Regions from separate parts of the Homo sapiens genome. Here region 1 is linked to region 2. The links come from fine-mapping of genetic effects on gene expression. A gene starts in region 2. The other region holds a variant in brackets. All regions are shown on one strand. Distances are between the middles of the regions.

Evidence for each region. PIP is the estimated chance that this variant, and not a neighbour inherited with it, causes the effect.
Region 1: its variant is fine-mapped to the expression of CDC25B in whole blood (INTERVAL, PIP 0.98).

What each region holds. Positions count from the first base shown.
Region 1 is chr20:3,827,270-3,836,076 of GRCh38, forward strand. It overlaps AP5S1 (adaptor related protein complex 5 subunit sigma 1), which reads left to right. Exons shown (of 3, transcript NM_018347.3): 3 at 1-1,569. Among named protein-coding and RNA genes, the nearest start is that of AP5S1, 11 kb to the left of the region's middle. RefSeq lists an enhancer at 3,707-4,207. The variant T/C (reference allele first, on the strand shown) is at 3,517.
Region 2 is chr20:3,791,758-3,800,564 of GRCh38, forward strand. It overlaps CDC25B (cell division cycle 25B), which reads left to right and starts at 4,553. Exons shown (of 16, transcript NM_021873.4): 1 at 4,553-4,974; 2 at 5,865-5,992; 3 at 6,655-6,706; 4 at 8,531-8,572; 5 at 8,705-8,741. The coding sequence starts at 4,775. RefSeq lists enhancers at 3,549-4,280, 4,191-4,350, 7,705-7,999 and silencers at 4,581-4,650, 4,691-4,870, 4,937-5,144, 8,745-8,807.

The sequences.
Region 1 (8,807 bases), 36 kb after region 2:
TTTTGTTTTGTTTTAGGCGGAGTTTCTCTTTGTTGCCCAGGCTGGAGTGCAGTGGCGCAATCTCGGCTCATTGCAAGCTCCGCCTCCCAGATTCACGCCATTCTGTCTCAGCCTCCCAAGTAGCTGGGACTACAGGTGCCTGCCACCACGTCCGGTTAAGTTTTTCTATTTTTAGTAGAGACGGGGTTTCACCGTGTTAGCCAGGTTGGTCTACATCTCCTGACCTTGTGATCCGCCCGCCGTGGCCTCTCAAAGTACCGGGATTATAGGCGTGAGCCACCACGACTGACTGGCATGAAGTCACAGGTTTTAAGGCAGGAACTGGCCTGCATGTATGTGGGTCACTGATTGGGTCACATACACTGCATGTATGTGAGCCCTGGGATGGGATTGGATCATCTTGTCTCCTTTAGGGCAGGGTGTTTTTTTCTAGCCCTGTGGTGCTGCGCACTGTCCAGCATCCCCCCAGGGCTCAATGTTTTCTTTTCTTTTTCTTTTTTTTTTTTTTTTGAGATGGAGTCTCACTCTGTTGCTCAGGCTGGAGTGCAGTGGTGCAATCTTGGCTCACTGCAACCTCTGCCTCCTGGGTTCAAGCAATTCTACCGCCTCAGCCTCCCAAGTAGCTGGGATTACAAGCATGTGCCACCATGCCTGGCTAATTTTTGTATCTTTAGTAGAGACAGGGTTTCACCGTGTTGGCCAGGCTGGTCTCGAACTCCTTACCTCAGGTGATCCACCCATATTGGCCTCCCAAAGTGCTGAGATTACAGGTGTGAGCCACCATGCCTGGCCTCAATCTTTTCTTTTAAACAATTATTCCTATATTTTATTGTAATGCAGTTAACCGTGTTTGTCAGATTCAATACTCTGTGACCCGTTAACCAAGTCTCTGTATGTTTATTACTGCAATTCAAGTGGCCGTGACCGTTTTCTTAAATATACTTTATTTGTTTAGTGCAATTTTAGGTTCACAGTAAAACTGAGCAGAGGGTACAGAGAGTTCTCATTTACTCCCTGTCCCCACACATGCACAGCCTCCCTTATCACCAACACTGGGCACCAGAGTGGTCATTTGTTACAACTGATGGACCTTCATTGACACGTCACTATCACCAGAGTCCATAGTTTACATTAGGGTTCACTCTTGGGGTGGTACATTCTATAGGTTTGGATGTATTTTCAGTGACATGCATCTACCATTATAGTATCATACAGAAGAGTTTCCCTGCCCGAACAGTCCTCTGCTGCACCTGTTCATTCTTCCCTCCCCTCAACCCCTAGCAACCATTGATCCTTTTACTGCTTCCATAGTTTTGCCTTTTCCAGAATGTTGTGTAGTTAGATTCATACTGTATATGTAGCCTTTTCAGATTGACTTCCTTCACTTAGTAATGTACATTTAAGATTCCTTCAAGTCTTTTCATGGCTGAATCATGAGCTTGACAGCTCATTTTGGAAGTACTGCTGAATAGTATTCCATTATGTGGATGTACATTATCTGTTCACCTACTGAAGGACATCTTGGTTGCTTCCAAGTTTTGGCAATTATGAATACAACTGCTACAAACATTTGTGTACAGGTTTTTGTGTGAACATAAGTTTTCAACTCCTTTGGGAGTATAAATACTCATAAATACCAAGGAATATGAGTCCTGGATTCTGTGGTAAGAGTATGTTTCATTTTGTAAGAAACTGCCAAACTGTCTTCAAAAGTGGCTGTACCATTTTGCATTCCTGTTGGCAGTTAATGAGGGTTTCTGTTGCTCTACATCCTCTGAAACATTTGGTTTCGTCACTGTTTTGGTTTTGGCCCATTCTTTTTTTTTTTTTTTTTCCTGAGACGGAGTGTCCTTTGTCATCCAGACTGGAGTGCAGTGGCACTATCTCGCCTCACTGCAACCTTGACTGCCCAGGTTCAAGCAATTCTCCTGCCTCAGCTTCCCGAGTAGCTGGGATTACAGGCGTGTGCCACCACGCCTGGCTGATTTTTTTTTTTTTTTTTCTGAGACAGAGTCTCGCTCTGTCATCCAGGCTGGAGTGCAGTGGCACAATCTCCACTCACTGCGACCTCCGCCTCCCGGGTTCAAACCATTCTTCTGCCTCAGCCTCCTGAATAGCTGGGACTACAGGCACACGCCACCGCGCCTGGCTGATTTTTGTATTTTTAGAAGAGAGAGGGTTTCACCATATTGGCCAGGCTGGTCTCAAACTCCTGACCTGAAGTCATCTGCCTGCTTCAGCCTCCCAGAGTGCTGGGATTACAGGCATGAGCCTCTGCACCCGGCTGGCTTTTGGCCATTCTAATAGGTATGTAGTGAAATCTTGTTTTAATTTGCAGTTCCCTAATAACATGACGTAGAGTATCTTTCCTATGCTTACTTGCCATCTGTAAATCTTTAGTGAGGTGTCTGTTCAAGTCTTTTGCCCATTTTAAAACAGGCAACTTGTTTGGGTGATTTCTTTTTGTTGAGTTTTAAGAGTTCTTTGTGTATTTTGGATAACAGCTCTTTATCAGATATACCTTTTGCAAATATTTTCTCCCAGTCTGTGGCTTGTCTTCTCATTCTCTTGACAGTGTCTTTCACAAAGCAGAGCTTTTTAAATTTAATGAAGTCCAGTTTCATATAATTTAATGAAGTGGGCCGGGCGAGGTGGCTCATGAGGCCTGTAATCCCAGCACTTTGGGAGGCCAAGGCAGGAGGATTGCTTGAGCCCAGGAGTTCGAAACCAGCCTGTACAACATAGAGACTTCATCTCTACAAAAAAATATAAAAATTGGCTGAGTGTGGTGCACACCTGTGGTCCCAGCTACTTGGGAGGCTGAGGTCGAAGGATTGCTTAAGCCCAGGAGGTCAAGGCTGCACTGACCTGTGACTGTGCCACTGCACTCCAGCCTGGGTGACAGAGCAAGACTTTGTTTCCAAAAAAAAAAAAAAAAAATTAATGAAGTTTGTCAATTTTTTTTTTTTTTTTTTTTGAGACGGAGTTTCTCTCTTGTTGCCCAGGTTGGAGTGCAATGGTGCAATCTCGGCTCGCCACAACCTCGCCTCCCGGGTTCAAGCAATTCCCCTGCCTCAGCCTCCTGAGTAGCTGGGATTACAGGCATGTGCCACCACCCTTGGCTAATTTTGTATTTTTCGTAGAGACAGGGTTTCTCCATGTTGGTTAGGCTGGTCTCGAACTCCCGACCTCAGGTGATCCACCCGCCTCGGCCTCCCAAAGTGCTGGGATTACAGGCGTGAGCCACCATGCCCAGCTCTTTGTCAATTTTTTAAATGGATCCTGCCTTTACTGTTGTATTTAAAAAGTCATCACCAATCCAATATCATCTAGATTTTCTCCTATGTTATCTACTAGAAGTTTTACAGTTTTGCATTTTACATTTAGGTCTATGATCCATTTTGAGTTCATTTTTGTGAAGGGTGTAAGGTCTATGTGTAGATTCATGTTTTTGCATGTGGATGTTCAGTTGTTCCAACATAATCTCTTGAAAAGAGTCTTTCTATCTTTGTTCCA[T/C]TGTATTGCTTTTACTCCTTTGTCAGAGACCAGTTGACTGTATTAATGTGGGTCTCTCCTGGGTTCTTTATTCTGTTCCATTAATCTGTTTGTCTATTCTTTTGCCAATACTACACTATTTTTTTTTTTTTTTTTTTTTGAGATGGAGTCTCACTCTTACCCAGCCTGGAGTGTAATGGTGCAATCTTGGCTCACTGCAACCTCCACCTTCCAGGTTCAAGCCACCCTCCCGCCTTAGCCTCCCTAGTAGCTGGGACTATAGGCATGCACCACCATGCCTGGCTAATTTTTCTATTTTTGTTAGAGATGGGATTTCACCGTGTTGGCCAGGCTGGTCTCAAACTCCTGACCTCTGGTAATCTGCCCACCTCAGCCTCACAAAATGCTGGGATTATAGGCATGAGCCACTGTGCCTGGCCACCACACTATCTTTTTTCAAGGTTTTTTTTTTTTTTTTTTTTTTTTTTCTGAGAGAGAGTCTCACTCTGTCGCCCAGGCTGGAGTGCAGTGGCGCAATCTCGGCTCACTGCAAGCTCCGCCTCCCAGCTTTACGCCATTCTCCCGCCTCAGGCTCCTGAGTAGCTGGGACTACAGGCGCCCGCCACCACACCTGGCTAATTTTGTTTTTGTATTTTTAGCAGAGACGGGGTTTCACCGTATTAGCCAGGATGGTCTTGATCTCCTGACCTTGTGATCTGCCCGCCTCGGCCTCCCAAAGTGCTGGGATTACAGGCGTGAGCCACTGCACCTGGCCCACTATCTTGATTACTGTAACTTTATAGTAAGTCTTGAAGTCAGGCAGTGTCAATCTTTAACTTTTTTCTTCATATATATATATCTATATATATATGTGTGTGTGTGGTGTGTGTGTGTGTGTGTGTATATATATATATATTTTTTTTTTTTTTTTTTTTTGGAGACAAGGTCTTTACTCTGTCACCCAGGCTACAGTACAGTAGTGTGATCACAGCTCACTGCAGCCTGGACCTCCCTGGCTAAGTGATCTTCCCACCACAGGCATGCACCACCACACCCAGCTAAATTTTAAATATTTAGTAGAGACAGGGTCTTGCTATGTTGTCCAAGCTGGCCTTCAACTCCTGAGCTCAAGCAATCCTCCCACCTTGGCCTTCCAAAGTGGGTAATGTGGTTTTAATATCAGATTGCACTTGGCTGGGCACAGTGGCTCATGCCTATAATCCCAGCACTTTGGGAGGCCAAGGTGGGTAGATCATCTGAGGTCAGGAATCCGAGACCAGCCTGGCCAACATGGCAGAAACCGTGTCTCTACTAAAAATACAAAAATTAGCCAGGAGTGGTGGTACATGCCTATAATCCCAGCTACTTGGGAGGCTGAGGCAGGAGAATCATTTGAACCTGGGAGGTGGAGGTCCAGTGAGCTGAGATCATGCCACTGCACTTCAGCCTGGGTGACAGAGTGAAACTGTCTCAAAAAAAAAAAAAAAAAAAAGCTGGGCGTAGTGGCTTACTCCTGTAATCCCAGCACTTTGAGAGGCTGAGGCGGGCGGATCACAAGGTGAGGAGATCGAGACCATCCTGGTTAACACAGTGAAACCCCGTGTCTACTAAAAATACAAAAAAATTAGCTGGGTGTGGTGGTGAGCGCCTGTAGTCCCAGCTACTCGGGAGGCTGAGGCAGGAGAATGGCATGAACCCGGGAGGCGGAGCTTGCGGTGAGCCGAGATCGCGCCACTGTACTCCAGCCTGGGCAACAGAGTGAAACTCTGTCTCAAAAAAAAAAAAAACAAAAAAAAACAAAAAAAAAACATTGCACTTGCTGATTGCTTGTATAAGTGAAAGCAATTGACTTTTTTTTCTTTTTTGAGACAGGGTCTCACTCTGTTGCCCAAGCTGGAGTGCAGTGGCGCAGTCTTGGCTCACTGCAGCCTGTGCCTTCTGGGCTCAAGTGATCCCCCCACCTCAGCCTCCCAAGTAGCTGAGATTACAGATGTGCACCACTATGCCCAGCTAAATTTTTGTGTTTTTAGTAGAGACGAGGTTTCACTATGTTGGCCAGTCTGGTCTCAAAATCCTGATCTCAAGTGATCCACCCACCTTGGCCTCCCAAAGTGCTGGGATTACAGGCGTGAGCCATCGTGCCTGGGCACCATTTTTTTCCTTTTTTTTGAGACGGAGTCTCGCTCTGTTGCCCAGGCTGGAGTGCAGTGCCACCATCTCAGCTCACTGCAACCTCCACCTCCCGGGTTCAAGCGATTCTCCTGCCTCAGCCTCCCGAGTAGCTGGTACTACAGGTGCGCACCACCATGCCCAGCTAATTTTTGTATTTTTAATAGACACGGGGTTTCACCATGTTGGCCAGGATGGTCTCAATCTCTTGACCCAGTGATCCACCCACCTCAGCCTCCCAAAATGCTGGGATTACAGGTGTGAATCACCACACCCGGCTGAGTTTTTCTTTTTTTAATAGAGATAAGGTCTTCCTACAGGGAGGTTGCCAAGGCTAATCTCAAACTCCTGGACTCAATAGATCCGCCTGCCTTGACCTCTCAAAGTGCAGGAATTACAGGCATGAGCCACTTCGTCCAGCTTAGCAATTGACTTTTGTATATTAATGTTGTGTCTTGCAATCTTGCTGTAATGCTTATTCGTTCCAAGAGTTTTTGTTGGTTTGTTTTTGTTGATTCTTTCAGATTTTCTACATTAGCTAGGACTTTTGGTACAACATTGAAAATGAGTTGTTAGGACATTATTGCCTTGTTCCTGACCTTAGTGGGAAAGCTTCCAGTTTCTCACCATTAAGTATGATTTTTGTAAATGTTCTTTATCAACTTGTGAAGTTCTCTTATTTCCTAGTTTGTTGAGAGTTTTTATTGTAAATGGTGGTTGGACTTTGCCACATGCTTTTTCTGCTTTTATTGGTATGATAATGCAATTTTACATCGTTAGCCTGTCAATGTAATTGATTATCTTAATTGATTTTCAAATGTTGAACTAGCCTCACATACCTGGAATAAATCCCGCTTGGTCATTTTGAGTAATTATTTTTATACATTACTGGATTTGATTTGCTACTATTTTGTTGAGGAGTTTTGCATCTATGTTCACAAGAGATACTGGTCTGTAGTTTCCTTGCTTCCTTCCTTCCTTCCTTCCTTCCTTCCTTCCTTCCTTCGTTCCTTCCTTCCTTCTTTCCTTCGTTCCTTCCTTCCTTCCCTCCGTCCCTCCTTCCCTCCCTCTGTCAGGAGTCCAAGACAAGGCTGGCCAACATGGCAGAAACCACGTCTCTACTAAAAATACAAAAATAAGCCAGGAATGGTGGTACACGCCTGTAATCCCAGCTACTTAGGCGCAGTCTCGGCTCACTGCAATCTCCACGTCCCGGGTTCAAGCGATTCTACTGCCTCAGCCTCCTGAGTAGCTGGGATTACAGGTGCACACCACCATGCCTGGCTAATTTTTGTATTTTTAGTAGAGACGGGGTTTCACCATGTTAGCCAGGCTGGTCTCGGACTCCTGACCTCAAGTGATCCACCCACCTCAGCCTCCCAAAGTGCTGGGATTACAAGCGTGAGCCACCACACACCTGGCCATCACTTGCTTTTTTCACTCACCAGTGTATCCTGGATATTTTTGTCATAGCACTACAGAGACAGCATCTGTATTCTTTTAAGTTCTTATCCATCATGTGGCTAGATTATAGTTAATTTAGCAAACCTAAAAGTTATTGTGAACTACCATATTTCACATTTACAAAAAGGTGCTTAGAATTATATAATGAGCATCCAAGTACCTGTCATTTCATTTAAGAAATAAAAACCAGCTGGGTGTGGTGGCTCACGCCTGTAATCCCAGCACTTTGGGAGGCCGAAGTGGGCAGATCACCTGAGGTCGGGAGTTTGAGACCAGCCTGACCAACATGGAGAAACCCTGTCTCTACTAAAAATACAAAATTAGCTGGATGTGGTGGTGCATGCCTGTAATCCCAGCTACTTGGGAGGCTGAGGCAGGAGAATCACTTGAACCCGGGAGGCAGAGGTTGTGGTGAGCTTAGATCGCGCCATTGCACTCAGCCTGGGCAACAAGAGTGAAACTATGTCTCCAAAAACAGAAACAAAAAAGAAATAAAACCCAGCATTACCTCATTATTTTAGGCTTTTATTTTCATGAACTGTTTCCTTCTGTTTTCATTTAGTATATCCATACCTCTTTAGGGGTGCTTAAGTCATTTGTTTGCAGTCTTAGAAAATGACATTAGTCTTTAAGTTATGAATTTTCCTATGATACAGCTTTAGTTGTATCCCATATGTTCTGATGTGGTGTTTTCACTGTTGACATTTTCTAGAAATCTGTAGTTTCACTTTTTTTCCTTCTTAATTCCCTATTTTTACATGACTTCGTGAGAACAATATTTTTGAGTTCTTGTATGTTAAAAAATTATTTTTGGCTGGGCACGGTGGCTCATGCCTGTAATCCCGGCACTTTGGGAGGCCAAAGAGGGTGGATCACCTGAGGTCAGGAGTTTGAGACCAGCCTGGCTAACATGGTGAAACCCTGTTTCTGCTAAAAATACGAAAAATTAGCTGGGCGTGGTGGCACATACCTGTAATCTCAGCTATTTGGGAGGCTGAGGCAGGAGAATCACTTGAACCCAGGAGATGGAAGTTGCAGTGAGCCGAGATTGCGCCATTGCACTCCAGCCTGGGTAACAAGAGCGAAACTCTGTCTAAAAAAAAAAAAATCTTTTTAGAGCCTTTATACTTGATCTTTCTGCCTGAGTGCCCCAAAGATTCATCTTTACATTTCAGTAACATTATTAGAATGTATCTCATAGTGCAAACATAGTGTGTTTATTCTTTTTTTTTTTTTTTTTTTGACGGAGTTTCGCTCTTGTTGCCCAGGCCGAAGTGTGCAATGGCTCGATCTCGGCTCACCGCAACCTCCACCTCCCAGGTTCAAGCAATTCTCCTGCCTCAGCCTCCCGAGTAGCTGAGATTACAGGCATGCGCCACCATGCCCGTTTAATTTTGTATTTTTAGTAGAGATGGGGTTTCTCCACGTTGGTCAGGCTGGTCTCAGACTCCCGACCTCAGGTGATCCGCCCGCCTCGGCCTCCCAAAGTGCTGGGATTACAGGCGTGAGCCAACACGCCCGGCCCATACTGTGTTTTTTCAAAAGTAGATTGAAGTCCTTTTTTACTTCAGAAGTATTTTCCAGAATTATATCTTATTTTTATTTGTTTTTGAGACGGAGTCTTGCTCTGTCGCCAGGCTGGAGTGCGGTGGCGCAATCTCAGCTCACTGCAGCCTATG
Region 2 (8,807 bases):
CAGACACATAAGGGCATACTTACTGCATCGTTGTAAAAGCTAATATCCTAAATGTTCAGCATTAGGGGCTTGAGTAAATATATATTGTTATGGTACTAATATGGATCCATCTCCAAGTAAGAAGAAGAAAGGTATAGAACAGTGGTTTTTATTTTTATTTATTTATTTATTTTTGAGACAGAATCTCACTTTGTCACCCAGGCTGGAGTGCAGTGGCACGATCTTGGCTCACTGCAACCTCCGCCTCCTGGATTCAGGTGATTCTCCTGCCTCAGACTCCCAAGTAGCTGGGATTACAGGCACATGCCACCATGCCTGGCTAATTTTTGTATTTTTAGTAGAGACAGGGTTTCACCATGTTGCCCAGGCTGATCTTGAACTCCTGACTTCAGGTGATCCACCTACCTTGGCCTCCCAAAGTACTGGGATTACAGGTGTGAGCCAGCATGCCAGCCTAGAACAATGTTCATATGCTGTTTGTATATTCTTTAAAATACAGACGGATTTACGCTTGTAAAGATATAGACCTGCAGCCACTAACCCTAAGTGGCCATTGAACTATTAATTTATTTATTTTATGTTTAGAATCAAAGTCTCACTCTGTTGCCCAGGCTGGAGTGCAGTGGTGGAATTATGGCTCACTGCAGACTCAAACTCCTGGGCTCAAGCTATCCTCCTACCTCAGCCTCCAGAGTCACTTGGATTTTTTGTTTGTTTGTCTGTTTTTGAGACGGAGTCTTGCTCTTTTCGCCCAGGCTGGAGTGCAATGGCATGATCTAGGCTCACTGCAACCTCCGCCTCCCAGGTTCAAGCGATTCTCCTGCCTCAGCCTCCCGAGTAGCTGGGATTTCAGGTCGGTGCCACCAGGCCAAACTAATGTATGTATTTTTAGTAGAGACAGGTTTTCACCATGTCGGCCAGGCTGGTCTCAAACTCCTGACCTTGTGATCCACCTGCCTCGGCCTCCCAAAGTGCTGGGATTACAGGTGTGAGCCACCGTGCCCAGCGAGTCACTTGGATTATAGGCAGGGGCCACCACACCGGGCTAAGTTTTTAAAAAATGTTTTGTAGAGACAAGGTTTCACCATATTGCCCAGGCTGGTCTTGAATTACTAGCCTCAGGCAATTGTCCTGCAGCAGGCTCTGGAGTTGCTGGGATTATAGGTGTGAGCCACAGTGCCAGCACTATTGAGCCCTTTAAATGTTGCAAGTACAAATTGAGATGTGCTGGGGGTGTAAAATGCATACTAGTTTGAAGACTTGATATCCAAAAATGTAAAATATCTCATTAATTTATATTGATAACATGTCGAATAATATTTTGAATACATTACATTGAATAAAATATTACAGTAATTTCATGTTTCTTTTTTACTGTTTTAAATGTGGCTACTAGAATATTTTAAATTATGTATGTGGGCCAGGCGCAGTGGCTCACGCCTGTAATCCTAGCACTTTGGGAGGCCGAGGTGGGTGGATCACCTGAGGTCAGGAGTTCGAGACCAGCCTGGCCAATATGGCAAAACCCTGTCTCTACTGAAAATACAAAATTGGCCAGGAATGGTGGCGGGCACCTGTAATCCCAGGTACTCGAGAGGCTGAGGCAGGAAAATCGCTTGAACCCAGGAGGCAGAGGTTGCAGTGAGCCGAGATCATGCCACTGCACTCCAGCCTGGGCGACAGGGCGAGACTCCATCTCAAACAAACAAACAAAAAAACCCAGAACCCCTCTGTGGTCTTGCCCACCTCCCCCCTCACTGGCCCAGAGGTGACCTGACTGTGGGATTTCTGTTTTTTTTTTTTTGGTTTTAGAGAATTTTATTTTATTTTATTTTATTTTTTTATTTTATTATTATTATACTTTAAGTTTTAGGGTACATGTGCACAATGTGCAGGTTAGTTACATATGTATACATGTGCCATGCTGGTGTGCTACACCCATTAACTCGTCATTTAGCATTAGGTATATCTCCTAATGCTATCCCTCCCCCCTCCCCCCACCCCACAACAGTCCCCAGAGTGTGATGTTCCCCTTCCTGTGTCCATGTGTTCTCATTGTTCAATTCCCACCTATGAGTAGAATATGCGGTGTTTGGTTTTTTGTTCTTGCGATAGTTTACTGAGAATGATTATTTCCAATTTCATCCATGTCCCTACAAAGGACATGAACTCATCATTTTTTATGGCTGCATAGTATTCCATGGTGTATATGTGCCACATTTTCTTAATCCAGTCTATCATTGTTGGACATTTGGGTTGGTTCCAAGTCTTTGCTATTGTGAATAGTGCCGCAATAAACATACATGTGCATGTGTCTTTATAGCAGCATGATTTATAATCCTTTGGGTATATACCCAGTAATGGGATGGCTGGGTCAAATGGTATTTCTAGTTCTAGATCCCTGAGGAATCGCCACACTGACTTCCACAAGGGTTGAACTAGTTTACAGTCCCACCAGCGGTGTAAAAGTGTTCCTATTTCTCCACATCCTCTCCAGCACCTGTTGTTTCCTGACTTTTTAATGATTGCCATTCTAACTGGTGTGAGATGGTATCTCATTGTGGTTTTGATTTGCATTTCTCTGATGGCCAGTGATGATGAGCATTTTTTCATGTGTTTTTTGACTGTGGGATTTCAAGGGATTCAATAGTATAATGCCTGCCCTGCCACATACACCCTGTGCAGATGTATATTGGCTGGGTGGGGGGTGGGGGGGATACCTGTTGTGTTTATTTTGAAAATGCAAATCTCGGGGCAGTTTTTTTTTTCTGGTTTTTGGGCTGGGTGGCTTTACAAGGACACTTCCCCCTTCCCTCCTGGCACTAAGGGCAGTCACATCCTCACTGGAAGTAGTGGCTGGAGGTCCAGGGCATAACCCCTGACCCAGGGAGGATGAACCGGAAATTCAGTCTTGCAGAGCCCTCTGCACAGCACAGGAGCTGGGCAAAATTTGGAGAAAAGGAAAGGTCACGTTCCCACCTTGGCCACCCCTCTCAGGTGGGGCTGGGGTCTTCCCCTACCCTTCAGATGCATTGGCCCACCCAGCCCCCCATCACCAGGCCCTCCCTTTTGCCACCCCCATCCAATGCACCTTGGGTCTGGGTGGCTGGGACTGCACGAGAAGGGGTACTCCTGCCTTGCTGAGCTGCAGCCCGCCCCCCGCACCACCACCCGCCCAGCCAGAGGCCACTTCTAACCTGGGGAGACAGGATGCGAAAGCTGCTCACTACCCACCGGCTTTTGGGTGCAGCCTTCAGGCCTCTTGTTCCAGGAGGCCTGGAAAACGAGCGGGGCTGGAAGGCATTTAGATAATTGGAAGATGGGCCGGGCACAGTGGCTCGTGCGTGTAATCCCAGCACTTTGGGAGGCCTAGGTGGGTGGATCACGAGGTCAGGAGTTCGAGACCAGCCTGGCCAATATGGTGAAACCCCCGTCTCTACTAAAAATACAAACATTAGCTGGGCGTGGTGGCGCGCTCCTGTAGTCTCAGCTACTCGGGAGGCTGAGGCAGAAGAATCGCTGGAACCCGGGTGGCGGAGGTTGTAGTGAGCAGAGATGGCCACTGCACTCCAGCCGGGTTGACAGAGGGAGACTCCATCCCAAAAAAAACAAAACAAAACAAAAAGAAAGATAATTGGAAGCTGCTCCGCTTAAAACGAATGACAAATTCAGCCTCCCTGGTCTGGTCATCAAAGAAACACCAATTAAATAATATGGTGCCATTGGCACCAAGTTAGCCAAATCATCAATGGGCGTGATACTTAATTCGCCTCTCTGGTTGCTGACACCCTCCTCGACCCCCAGCCGCGGAAATCCATTCCTAGTTCCACCGTTTAGAGCCTCTCCTGGGGCTGCCGCGAAAATTGGGCCGGTTGGGGTAACATCTAACCTGGGGTCCCGCGAAAGAGCCCATCAGTTCCGCTTGGGGGCCCCACTGCCCTCCCACCTCCTACGCTGGGCGCTTCTCCTGCGAATGACGTTTTGCTGCTGCTCAGCGCAGCCAGTCGCGGAGGCGGGGAGGCTGCGCGGTCAGAGGCGCCTGGAGCGAGCGAATCCTGGCCCACCGCCTGCCCAACCGCGTGACCTTGATTGAGTTAATGAACTTCACGCCTCAGCGTCCAGGTCTGTAAAATGGGGTGTCTAACGCAGACCGTACAGCCCAGCTGGGTTTAGCAAACTTCCGGGAGCCAGTTGGAGCCTCTCCCCATCCCTAGCGGTGATCCCAGGTGACGACATGCCGCGGGGGGTCCTGCGGAGGCCACCCTAGGGCGTTGCTGCTGCCTTTGGGAGTGTGGAGCTCCAAACCATGTCGCGAGAGGCGGATTTTGGGAGGCCGGGATCCTCGCGCCAGGGGGATGTGCGAGGGTGTGGGATAAATCTTAATTCCTCCGGCCCACCCAAAGCCTGGAAATCCAGCCTCCGCGCCTCTTGCCCTGCGGGCCCCGCCCTCAGTCCCGCCCTCATCTAACCCGCTACCCCATTGGTGGCGTCCGGCGGCGCGGCTGCTGTTATTTTTCGAATATATAAGGAGGTGGAAGTGGCAGCTGCAACTAGAGGCTTCCCTGGCTGGTGCCTGAGCCCGGCGTCCCTCGCCCCCCGCCCTCCCCGCATCCCTCTCCTCCCTCGCGCCTGGCCCTGTGGCTCTTCCTCCCTCCCTCCTTCCCCCCCCCCCCACCCCTCGCCCGCTGCCTCCCTCGGCCCAGCCAGCTGTGCCGGCGTTTGTTGGCTGCCCTGCGCCCGGCCCTCCAGCCAGCCTTCTGCCGGCCCCGCCGCGATGGAGGTGCCCCAGCCGGAGCCCGCGCCAGGCTCGGCTCTCAGTCCAGCAGGCGTGTGCGGTGGCGCCCAGCGTCCGGGCCACCTCCCGGGCCTCCTGCTGGGATCTCATGGCCTCCTGGGGTCCCCGGTGCGGGCGGCCGCTTCCTCGCCGGTCACCACCCTCACCCAGACCATGCACGACCTCGCCGGGCTCGGCAGGTAGGACACCCCAAGGAGGCTGCATATGGGGGTGAGAGGCTAGGTCTGGAGTCCTGGGCCTCCTGGAGAACTGGGCATGGTAGTCGAATCCAGGAGGTGGAGTCCGGGGAGGCATCCTGAGCAGTGGAGAGGTACGCCCTTGTTCCCTCCTAGGGGCCCAGGACATGGGAAGTGAGACCTGGGCTGTGCCCCCCACACCTCCAGGTGACCTGCTCTCAGTCTGCACAAGCCTCTCCAAATCTTCTTTCCCCTCACTCCCTCCTCCCTCATTGTGCCTCCACCACGCTGCCTCCGTAATCTCTGCCCGGATAGCCACCATTTTGCCCCAGGATGGGAATCTCAAGCCTGGAGAGGGAACTTAAGGGTGGCAGAGCCGTGGAGCACTCACACATCCATGCCCCTGCTCCCTCCACCCCAGTTCTGCCCCCAGAATTAAGACAATTAATTAAACACTGATCCTGCTCCCTAAGTCTGCAAGGGGAGAGCTGGGTTGTTCCAGTAGGAGAACCTGGTCTTGGTCCATCCTTCAGGAAGGGTCCTGGAAAGGTGGGGGTCTGACAGTTTAGGGGAAGGCTCTCTGGGGCGGCTCTGCTAGACCACCAACCCTTAGGCTGGCCTCCAGCCAGGCAGCCTTGCTCACACCCTGGGCTCACCTTGCCCTGCTCCTGAGAGGACCTTTCCTAAACCAGTCAACGAAGAGAAGACGCTTTAGGGCCTCTGTAGAATGAACCTTCCTTGACCTGAGAAGAGGGGGCCCTCAGGGCCATTGCTTTCCCGGTGTAGTGTTTCGCTCAGTTCTTTTCTCAGCAAGGGAGTGGGAACGTGGGCTAGCCAGGCCTTGAGCCCCACGTTTACCTTTCTCCTTTCCCGGGTCCCTGTTCCCTTCCCAGCGAAACCCCAAAGAGTCAGGTAGGGACCCTGCTCTTCCGCAGCCGCAGCCGCCTGACGCACCTATCCCTGTCTCGACGGGCATCCGAATCCTCCCTGTCGTCTGAATCCTCCGAATCTTCTGATGCAGGTGAGGCCCAGGGGAGCCTGGGGAGATCTGCCTGTGTCAGGAGAGTTTGTGGGGGCTGCCTGGGCCTCCCAATTTCCCTGCCGATCAAACTAACATCCTCCCCACAACCTGGTGGGCCCAGGAGCCTCTCCCCCACCCTCCACAGAAATGGGAGGAAGACACACCTCTTGTGGGGCTCACCACACCCAACGCGGACTGGCTGAGTGGATGAGAGGGTGGGGCCCTCTACGGAGATGAGATCTTACCTATGTAAAACCACGCTCCAGAGTTCCTAAACCACAACCCTACCTGGGAAGCACCCAGGGCTGAGAGTTGGTCTTTAAAACATTCTTAGCCTATAACCTCTTCTTTAAAAATCTGTTGTCTCTTCTAGAACAAATTATTTTAAACCAGTTCAAGAAAAATGCTTAGTGAGCATTGTGGTTTAAAGACGCATATGAAGGAATTTCCATAGTAAACAGGGAGTGGAGCCCTGTACCGTCTGGGGGACGATGTGTCAGCTCTCAGGGTCCATGGTTGGGTTTTTGTTTCATTTTCTAATGTGTCAAAGTCCAAACTAGAAACTGTTTTTTTTTTTTTTTTTTTTTTCATATTGGGACATGGTGGGGGAAAGAATACAGAAAGTGCCACTACTTTCAAACCAAGGTGCTCTGTCCCCTCAGGTCTCTGCATGGATTCCCCCAGCCCTATGGACCCCCACATGGCGGAGCAGACGTGAGTAGAGAAGGGAATGTGTACTTCCAAGCATTCAGCACCTGTCTTTAAGAATCCTAGTTCTACCATAAATTCACCCGGGAGGCCTGGGAAAGCAGACAGACCATGGGGTGGCTTCAGGATCCCCATGGCCGGGGGGCTCACTGACTTTCTCAGGCCTTGGCATTCTGCTCCCTGTCTCAGAGAAGGATCTGCTCTCATGGGAGCCAACCGAGTGTGGGCTCAGGGCCAGGGATAGTGGGGACAGTGGCCACTGGGAGAGCAGATACTAGACTACAGCCCATGTCTTGCAGGAATACAAGCCCAGCGTATGTCCCGTTTTTCTTTCTTGCCTATACCCATTTTTTTCTGTGAAATATTACAATTTAAAAATATGATCCAACTAATTCAAAACTTTAACTCACTCTAGGCCAAACAAAACACAGTTGCCTGCAGATTGATTTGGCTCTTGGCCGATCAGCAACCTCTGACTTCGATGACACTTTACCCTCTGGCCAGCCCTGGTCTAGGCCCTTTCTGCAAGGGAATGGAGAGAGAGTTGGTGGGCTCTGGCCTGGACAGACCATCCCCTTGGCTGTGGGCATGGGTGGTGTCTTCCAGAGCACAGCTGTTCCCATCCAGTTGTTAAAGCCCAAGCAGCGGGGCAGCTGCCAGCCATTAGTAGGGACAGCTGGGCATCTCTGGCCTGTGCTGGGGACTGTGGCTTTGGGTTTAGGATAGTGACTTGTCTTACCTCCCATTGCCTTTGATCAGACTGGGTTGGGCTGCAGATTGGTTCACAAACAGGAAATGGGGAGAGGATTGGGTGGGGTTGGGGGACTGCAGGTTGGTTTTGGTGGCAGCACAGAGCAATCTTGCCCTACCCCCAAGGCCCATGTGCAAGCCAATGAAATTGGTCATCCCTGATGCCAGGTTGGCTGGGCACAGCAGCCCCCCGGGGGGGCATCCCCCTCATACTTTATCCCTGAGTGGTTCCCTGCCCTGCACCTGCTCTGACAGTTATACAGAGTTTCTCAGAAGCTGTGTGTGTGTGTGTGTGTGTGTGTGTGTGTGTGTGTGTGTGCGCGCGCGCGCGTAGATGCACAAAAGCTCCGCGTGGCAGGTGGTCTCCTGTAACACGGCTGAGGGGGCGGGGCCTCAGAGGGAACATGTGTTGGAATTCCTTGCCTGCTGGCCTCTTCTAAGGCAGGAGGAGGGGGTGGGACAGAGGCTGGTCCTGGAAAATTCCATAGGAGGGAGGAGAGGATGTGAGCCTGCACGTTTGTCACTGGGGGTCTACTGTATCAGACTGGAGCTGACTGGGGGAGCCCTAAAGCAGGCCCCAGTCCTCAGAGGACCGGGAGCCAGGCCAGCTCCTCACAGGGGAGAGGAAGCCTAGCCTTGCTGTTGTCCAGGCCCTGGAGACACCCACATTGCTGGGTGCCCCTGGCCTATCATAGGATGGATGGATGCCTTTCCTGGCAGCCATATGGCCCCGCTGAGGTGATTTGCATACAGGTGGAAGGCCTGGTGCAGGCTGGCGAGACTGTTGCCTTGGTGACGCCTCCCTGACCCTGACCTGCCCCAGCTGTCTCTATCACTGCCATTCTCTGGGCTTTCTTTCATTCAGGGCAGCCTTTAAAATTCCAAGCTGCCTCTTATCTTCCCCCTCCCCAATACCTGGGCCCCCTGATGGTGGGCGTTCTTCCCACCCCACCCCTTCCACTGCCTTGAGCCTTGGCCCTTGTCTTTGCCCTTACTCCCCCCTGGACTGGGGGCCTGGTGCTGGGGTGGGTGATGGGTGCGGAGGGAGCATGGGTTGCATGGGACCCTTCTCTGTCCTAGGTTTGAACAGGCCATCCAGGCAGCCAGCCGGATCATTCGAAAGTAAGTGTTCCTGGGCCTCTTCCATCTACCACAAGCTTTCCCTTAGGACAGGGCTCCAGAAGGGCATGCTGCATGCTCTTGGTCCCTGCCCTGCCTCTCCCAGCTCTCACCTGTCCCCATTTCCTCCTGTAGCGAGCAGTTTGCCATCAGACGCTTCCAGTCTATGCCGGTGAGTGTCTTCGAGGCCTGACTGAGGCTTAGGCATGCTAGCCAGGCATGGGGTAGATGAGCAGGA